Regions from separate parts of the Homo sapiens genome. Here all the other regions are linked to region 2. Evidence: fine-mapped expression QTL. A gene starts in region 2. Each other region holds a variant in brackets. All regions are shown on one strand. Distances are between the middles of the regions.

What was found. PIP is the estimated chance that this variant, and not a neighbour inherited with it, causes the effect.
Region 1: its variant is the best candidate, but not a certain one, in a credible set for the expression of GAS2 in whole blood (TOPMed, PIP 0.65).
Region 3: its variant is the best candidate, but not a certain one, in a credible set for the expression of GAS2 in tibial nerve (GTEx, PIP 0.59).

The regions. Positions count from the first base shown.
Region 1 is chr11:22,604,196-22,606,968 of GRCh38, forward strand. No RefSeq gene overlaps it. Among named protein-coding and RNA genes, the nearest start is that of FANCF, 20 kb to the right of the region's middle. The variant C/T (reference allele first, on the strand shown) is at 1,293.
Region 2 is chr11:22,665,278-22,668,050 of GRCh38, forward strand. GAS2 (growth arrest specific 2) reads left to right here and starts at 1,334. Exons shown (of 8, transcript NM_001143830.3): 1 at 1,334-1,622. RefSeq lists a silencer at 1,414-1,573.
Region 3 is chr11:22,820,306-22,823,078 of GRCh38, forward strand. It overlaps SVIP (small VCP interacting protein), which reads right to left. Exons shown (of 4, transcript NM_148893.3): 4 at 1-2,773. Among named protein-coding and RNA genes, the nearest start is that of LINC02718, 7.7 kb to the right of the region's middle. The variant A/T (reference allele first, on the strand shown) is at 1,304.

The sequences.
Region 1 (2,773 bases), 61 kb before region 2:
GACACTACTGCCACACTTCTAATATAGTGATTGATCATTTCCAATTTATTCCTGAGAGAAATCAATGGTTCCTTCCTGGGGCATTTACATTAATTAATTTATTTTAATAATGAATACCCTATATTCACAATTTCCTAGGGAAGATGGGCCATTCTATTTATAATTGGTTTCTACTTCAGAGCTTTGGTATATTGTTTCAGAGCTTTAAATATGTATAAAAGAGCTACAAAGATCAAGAAAAAAATGGAAATTTAACCACAGCAACTAAATCATGACATCGATAAATCCTGTTGATCCAACTCAAATGCAACAAAGAAGCTTTGGAAGATTTTTCAGATTGTTGGGTGGTAGCATGAATACGTTACCCTATATTGGGACCCCCACTCTTCTTGTGTGAGTTTACACTCTTTGTAGCCACTACCAAAATGACTTATGTTTCTTAGCGATATGACACAGAGGATGATGCTGTCATCAAATTTCTACTTCATTACTATACATAAGCTACTTAATGTATGTCAGTCATAGTATGAGGGTCTTAGATGTTCAATAGTTAGCAAAAGAGAGGCATACTTGCCCTCCCTCAGCTTATAGCCCAGTGAAAAAGGCAGACACAAATGAACAGGAAAACTGTAATTAATAGAGAATGGGCTGCCTGAAGAAAAATATCGGGATGAAATATATTTAGACAGAGATGTTATGGTGAGAAGATAAAATTAAGCTGAGAGGTGAAAGACCTGAATGAGAACATTATTGACTGAAGGAATAATGTAAGCACAAGTGCTAGAACAGAAAAAAAACTGTTTATTTCAAAAACTGAAAGAATTTCCATGTTTTTGGAGTATATGGAAAGGAGAATGACAAGAGATGAGCAAATAAACGTGTATAGAGAAGCAGAGTATACTTTTAATCTTGTAAGGCAAGGAAAGAAAGGAAAATTGCCTTTATTTAAAGTGGAATGAGAAGCCACTAAAGGGTTTTGAGTAAGTGACTGAAATCATAAAAGTGACTCTATAAAAACTACTTCATTCTTTCATATATCTATTTAACAAATACTTTCTGAGCTTTCACTTTGTGCTAAAAACTGTTCTCTACTCTTTGGATATAAGACCAAACAAAACAGACTAAGTACCCTCTTTTTGAGGAGTTTATATTCTATAGAGAGAAGGCAGTAAAAAATAAATAAATAAACAAGGAAATAGTAAATTTGTACGTAATGATGAACATTTCTATGGAAACAAGAAAGAATGGAACAGTACAAGGAGGATCATTAATGGGGATGGGGCAAAAGTGGG[C/T]AGGGTCTCTGGTAGTGGGGAAAGTTGCTGTATTAAACAGAGTAGTCAGAATAAGACTCAACGAGGTGAAAGTTGAGCAAAGATTTGAAGTACGTAAGAAAGTTAGCTAAACAGGTAATGGTAAAAAGTTTCACAGGCAGAGAGAACAGCAATGAGGCAGGGCCATATCTGGTGTTTTCTAAGAGCAGCAAGGAGGGCAGTGTAGCTAGGGCAGAGGGAGTTGGGGGAAGAGTAAGAGAAAAGGCAGAGGGGTAAGAGAGAAAATGCTGATTATATAAAGCCTTGTAGGCCATTAGAAGGACTTGATAAAAGGAGATGTCAATGCAGTATTTTAAGAAGAGGAATAACATGATCTGTCTTATATTTTAAACTACTCTAACTGCATTGTTCAGAATGGATGGTAGACAGACCCCAATGCAGTCAGGAAGACCTGATTAAAAAGCTACTACCTACCACAAATTAAAACAATGAGATACTATTATATACCTATTAGAATGGCTGAAGTTCAGAACACTGACAACACCAAATGCTGGAAAGGATGTGAAGCAACAGAAACTCGCATTCATTGCTGGTAGGAATGCAAAATGGTACAGCCACTTTGGAAGACAGTTTAGCAGTGTCTTACAAAACTAAACACACTCTCACAGCAGAATCCAGCATCACTTTCCTTGGTATTTACCGAAAGGAGTTGAAAACATGTATTCACACAAACACTCACACATAGAGGTTTATGAAAACTTTATTTATGACTGACAAAACTTAGGAGCAACCAAGATGTCCCTCAGCAGGTGCATGGATAAACTATGGCACATCCAGACAATGGAATATTATTTAGCACTAAAAAGAAATGAGCTATAAAGCCATGAAAAGACATGGAGGACCCTTACATATATATTACTAAGTCAACAAGGCCAATTTGAAAAGGATACATACTGTAGGATTCCAACTATATGACAATCTGGAAAAGGGAAAACTACAGAGACAGTAAAAAGATCAGTGGTTTCAATGATAAATAGGGAGAGAGGAATGAATGGGCAGACAGTGGTTTCAATGGTAAATGGGGAGGAAGGAATGAATAGGCAGAGCACAAATAATTTTTAGCACAGTGAAACTAGTCTCTATGCTACTATAATGGTGGATATATAATATTATATATTAGTCTAAACCCATAGAATGTGTAACACCAAGAGTGAACCCCAATGTAAACTATGGTCTTTCAGTGACATGTCACTATAGGTTCATTAATTTTAATAAACATACAATTTTGGTGGGAATGTTGGTAATGGAGGAGTCTATGCATGTATGGGGAGAAGGGTTGAGGGAATCTCTACACCATATGCTCAGTTTTGCTGTGAATCTAAAACTTCTTAAAAAATAAAGCCTATTAAAGAAAGAAAAAAGCTATTGCAGGAATCCAGGTAAAAGATGATGGTGGCTCAGACAAGGGGTTTAGCAACAGAGATGATGCAGACACATTCTGA
Region 2 (2,773 bases):
TTAAATTAGCATTTATTGGCTGATGATGTTTTGATCAGGAAAAATTATCAAGAACATTTGATTTTTTACTAAATTGTATGTGTTCAGACACTCAAAATTCTTTGTTGGGGCTCTAGGAATACTCAGATCTGATCACATTTTAAGAAATTTTATCATTCAGATTCGTTTACTAAAACTCATCAGTAATGAGTTCTGTATGTTTTGTTGTTATTTATGTTTATCCAAGCTGTTATGTTGACCTTTTAAAAATGCTGTTTCTCCTTAAAATTAAGAATAACTATTTTTCCCTTCTTTTAGAAAGCTAAGGAGGAAATGTGGACCTGATAGCTGCAAAAGCAAATTGAACTAAAATAAAAAGTTCGGAGTTCAAGGACTCCAAACTTTTCAATCGGTTTTCTCTTCTTCTTTATTAAATGTATTGCCACTAGAAGCAAATAACTGATGCAGTTTCTGCCAGATAATGGCAATAATAAAGGTGAAATGTGAATATTTTTTAAATTATATCTAAAATCATCCACATCATTTAGCTTGTGGATGTACAGGTAGTTTCTATTTGGGAGTGGGGCTAGGTAACTCATCATTATAAAAATGGTATCCAAGCAAGGATCACAATACCTGTACCACTGCCATTGTAAACATTGGATGGCAATATACATGAAACTGATGAACATGAGAACAAAACAAAATAAAAAGTGTAATACATTTTATTTATGCTCCATGGGAGGTGGTAACCTGTGGGGATCAGCACACTCAGCAAGCGGTCCCCGCGCATTAGAGGTGAATCAGACACTTGAACATCTGTCCACTTCATGGAAGACGTTTCATCTCAGAATACACGTACTAATAAACAACAGTTGGAGACAATTGTCTCTGACATTCAACATAATGCTGAGCTGAGGCTGAAAGAAGGAAGGGTGGAATTGTATTTCCTTTGGTAAAGCAAAAACAGCCGTGAGTACAGCCTCTTCTAAAAATCTGATATTTAAAGAGAATTGTAAGACATCAAAATGTTCAATTTGGAATGAAGAGTGGCCGAAGTTACTGGAAAGCTCGTGCCTCCGTCTGCAAAATCACTGGCCAGGAAAGCAAAAACTTTTCCAACACCCAATTTTAATATTGTGCTAAAGCTATTGACTCTGTTAAACCTCTAGAGTTAAATATGATCCCCTCCCCAGCCCCCACCTTTTCTCTCTTAGGTTAGTGTCTGGGGGACAAGGAGGGGGCTGGAGCTTGGCCCCAACCTCGGAATTGCTGCCAAGGGCTTGTAATACAATCTCTCCCCGTTTGAAGGGTAAATCAGTGTCAACTGCATTTGCGTCCACCAAAAAAAGTAAGCATTTTACTTCCGCTCGGTCTATGAGGACTGATGAAATGTAGGAAATCTGTTTCTGGCAGGGAGAAAAAATCGTTTTCCCAAACAGCACTAAAAGGAGCCATCAGAGAAGTATGAAGAGGGGTAGTGCGGCTGTAGCTGCTGCCGCTGCCGCCAGGCTGGTGGGGTGCGGGGAGCGGCTGCTGCAGGACCTGTGCCTGGAGGGGGCCGGCCCCGAGAAGCTGCAGGAGCCCAGCCCGGAGCCCAAGCGCCTCTGAGAGCCGCCAGCAGCCCAGCTCGGGACGCGGGGGTGAGCACGACTGGCTGGCCCAGTTCTGCGCCAACGCCGCCGCAGCGTGCGCGCACCGCAGCCGGGGCTCACGGGAGCCCCTGCCTGTCTACTGCACCCGGGGCGGCGGGGGAGGGGAGAGGTCATTAAAAAATAACCTCAGGAACGAGGCGGGGAAGAGTGAAGAGCCGCGGACAGTTGGACAGGCTCTTTCTCTAAGAGTGGGTATTCACTGCAGGGGGTGACTTTCTGATTCTCTGGAAACAACCATGTGTTCCTTATCCCTATTGCGGAACACCCCGGACAACCGCAGCACGTAAGCCCGCTGGGGTGGCTCTGCCAACCAGGGACAGAGTGAGGATTTTTAATGAACACATCGATTATAAATGCACACATATGCATTCGTGCACAAGAGTATCTGTAATGCATGCTCAGCATTGTCTGTTATGGTGGGGTGGGATAGAGCCAGAATGGTCTTAAAGGGCTGATCCTGAATGTTTTACTTGAGTCGTTGAGGCCAGGATGGGAGGAAAGAGCGCCACATGTGTGATCTGGGGTGATACTCACTGTGTCTGATGAGTTTGATGAAATTGAGTTTTATGTGAATAAACAAACGCTAGCCGATATATATCAACACACTTTGGGGAGATTTTGCGTGGTATCGTTCTTTTTGTTCAGTCCAAAGTTGAGACTGGAATCTGAAATTGTTTGGGGAACAAAGGAGGCAATTTTGCTTTGGAGACATTATTTATACTGGCAAAATTAAATTCTGTCAACTCAGTATGGTAAATTACCATTAACTTAGCCCAGGTATCCGAAGAAGTTTCCATTGTCTTGAATGAAGAGGGAGCAAAAGCGAGGGTTAACAGATTCTGTTTCTACATTCTAAAAACAATTGAGGTTGGGGGAGGGTTGTTAATTCTTTTCCCAGTTAACCTTTTTGAAATCACAGTCTTTACCCTCTCCATCTTCTTCATCTTCATCCTCTCACCTCCGTGATCTTCTTACAGTGAAGAGTTTGCAAAACTTTATTCTTATAAAATTATCTCCTCCAACCCTCTCCAACAAGGTTAGATCAGTTGTGTATGAGAGATCTTATGCCAAGGAAATAAGATCTGCTTGTGCACAGGAACACCCATTTGACATCCTAGTATTAAAATAAAGGCTTAGAC
Region 3 (2,773 bases), 160 kb after region 2:
AAGGGAAAATTCAAAGTTCATGTCCATTTTCCTGGGGTACAAAGGATAGACAGAATTTTTATGATAGTATTATTTCTTTAGGAAAAAACAGGATACTAATTACATCATTTTTCCTTTATAGAAAATCCACCTATAAATCCAGGGATTGTATGAACACACCAAACAACCTTTGGTTCTGTTGCTCTTCTGAATCCCAATGTGATTAAAATGTTCCTGAGGTTTCCCTAACCACCAACTCAGGTTCTAAGTATTTAGGATGTAGTAAAGATAAAATTTTGTTAAAGAGACAGCTAAAGCTAATTTTTACATAGAAAAAAATGTATATTTATATCCCTAAAAGGCAATACAGAATTTATAACCAAACCATGTGTGAGAACTGTTAAATTACATTCCAAATACCAGCAGTGGAACAAACAGAAACACAGAGATGTTTTAAAAAACATGCAGCACGTTACAAAGAGGCCGTGTAATAATTCACAACTTTTGTTAGCAGCCGTTAAGTTTGATTAGTATTAAGCAGCAATGGTTTAAGCAATTTTAAATCATGATATGATAGTTACATATATGCATTTTACTGTTCCAATTATAGTTTAGTAATAGGTCAGGGGTTTGAGCAACATTTTAAGCATTATAATTTTCTCCTAAATTATTTACTATGGGAAATTGGCTTCCACTTAAGGTTTTCATAGAAACTGATGGTTATTTTATGAGGGAGATGTCTGGACGTATGTGTGTATGTGCATGTGTGTGTGTGTATATACACACACATATATAAATTAGAATTTGCAGATATTATGTGTATATATATACACACATATATAATATATATATTATATATATATATAATTTTTTAGTCATGTTTTTAGTCATTTGCTTTTTTTTTTAGTCATTTACCGGTTTCTCATAAGACATCCAGTCACTTCTTTTCCCTTGCCCTTTCCTAACACTGTTCCTAACATTTGGGTACCACCCCTTAGCTCCTGCGACCCATGTGGTTTTGGAGAAAGCTGATCACACTCACGGTGACAGGCCATGGTTGGAAGTAACATGTTCCACTTTTCACGAAAAGTAATAGATCTGAATATCATTCATGGTTAACAATAGATAGTGTGACATTTGGGTATGACCTGCTGGTAGAAATAGGGCATGATTCCCTGGAAGTAAGTCACTTACACCAACCCAAGTTCTAATTCTTTAAGATGTAGTAAAGACAAAATTGTTCTTGCTATATTAAAATGGAAGAAAGGATTTGCAGAGTTCAAGGATGATATGCTCTAGCTCTATATGCACTCCGCTATCAATC[A/T]TTCCTTTTACTTTCTGCCTTGAAAAAATCATTTTAATAAAATCAAAAATTTTCATTCTAAAATATAGTTCAATGATTTCACTACCCTTTATGAACAAAAACAGCACGAATCCTCTAAAGAAGAAAATTGAGCCAAATTGTTATGTTTTGCCTAGATATTCACACAATATTTCACACCATAATAGAAAAAATAATTTTTCCATGAGAAGTCAAGAGACCTGTATTATATAATAGTTCAAACTTTTAAAAATTAACATGTACAATACACTGCAGTATAACATAATTTTTGTTGGAGGGGTAGATGAAGATAGTGGCTCAGTTTCCTTTGTGTAAAGCAAGTGAACTTGGTCGATTTAACTTAAAATTTCTATTAGCACTTAATATCTGCAAATTTTAATTTAGGGCTCAACATGTGGCCTTGCCATTTAAAAGAGCTATCAGCCTTAATAGCTAACACAAATTCTTTTATTTCAGTGTATTATATAGGAGAAACAAAAAATGCTATAAAATTCATGTTTCTAATGAACAAAAATGTTAAGGTTTATGACTATGCATTGTATAGAATTACCTAATATTTTTATATCTGAAGTAGACCTTTTGTAAGTACAGTACCTACATGTTTTTTTCATACATTCATACTTGCCTTCGCAGTTTCACATCTGTATAAATCTTATGATCGTTCTCTAATAAGTACACAAGATTAACACTACTTATGAAATATGGACAAATATATTACTACTCATTATAACCCATCCAGATTATTAGTTTAACTCATTCAATTACTACAAAGATCCTTACAGAGCTGAATTTAATATACAATAGAACATCACTGCCCTCTGATGGTATCACTAATATATAATTTTAAATTCAGCAAACAAAAAATCCTTTATCATAAAGTAAAACAGGGTATGTTAATTTTATAAGCTACATAAATAAAAATAAATTGGAAAAAATTTTACATCTGCCTAAGAATACTCATTACTAAGTTATAAAAATTTACAGTGCTCCTTCACATCAGCCCTTCAAATGATTTTTTCAAGATTCTCCCTGATGATCAGTTTAAAGGCACTAAGTCCATAAGTTTAATCAAACATCTTCATAGTGAAATAAAAACAGATGTAACGCGATGCAGCACAAATATAAGTAGTTAGATCATTTTATAAAGGATGAAAAGACAACTGCGAATTTTAATCTTAGAGGTATATGCAGAATGTTTACATGCAGTGTATGTATATTCACTATTTAGTTCCATTTTTTAACTACTAAGAAAAATAGCAAATCACCCACTAACTGCAGAAGAGCAAATGTAGGAAAATCAGTATTTAATGAAAAGTCTAGCCATTCTCTAAGCTTGAAAATCAACGTTTTTTTAGCATTGCACTTAAGGGCAATAATATTACAAAGTCTGAATCTTCATTTACTCAAAGAGAAGAAATTAAATTGATGAAGCCCACTTGATTGCAGATAATA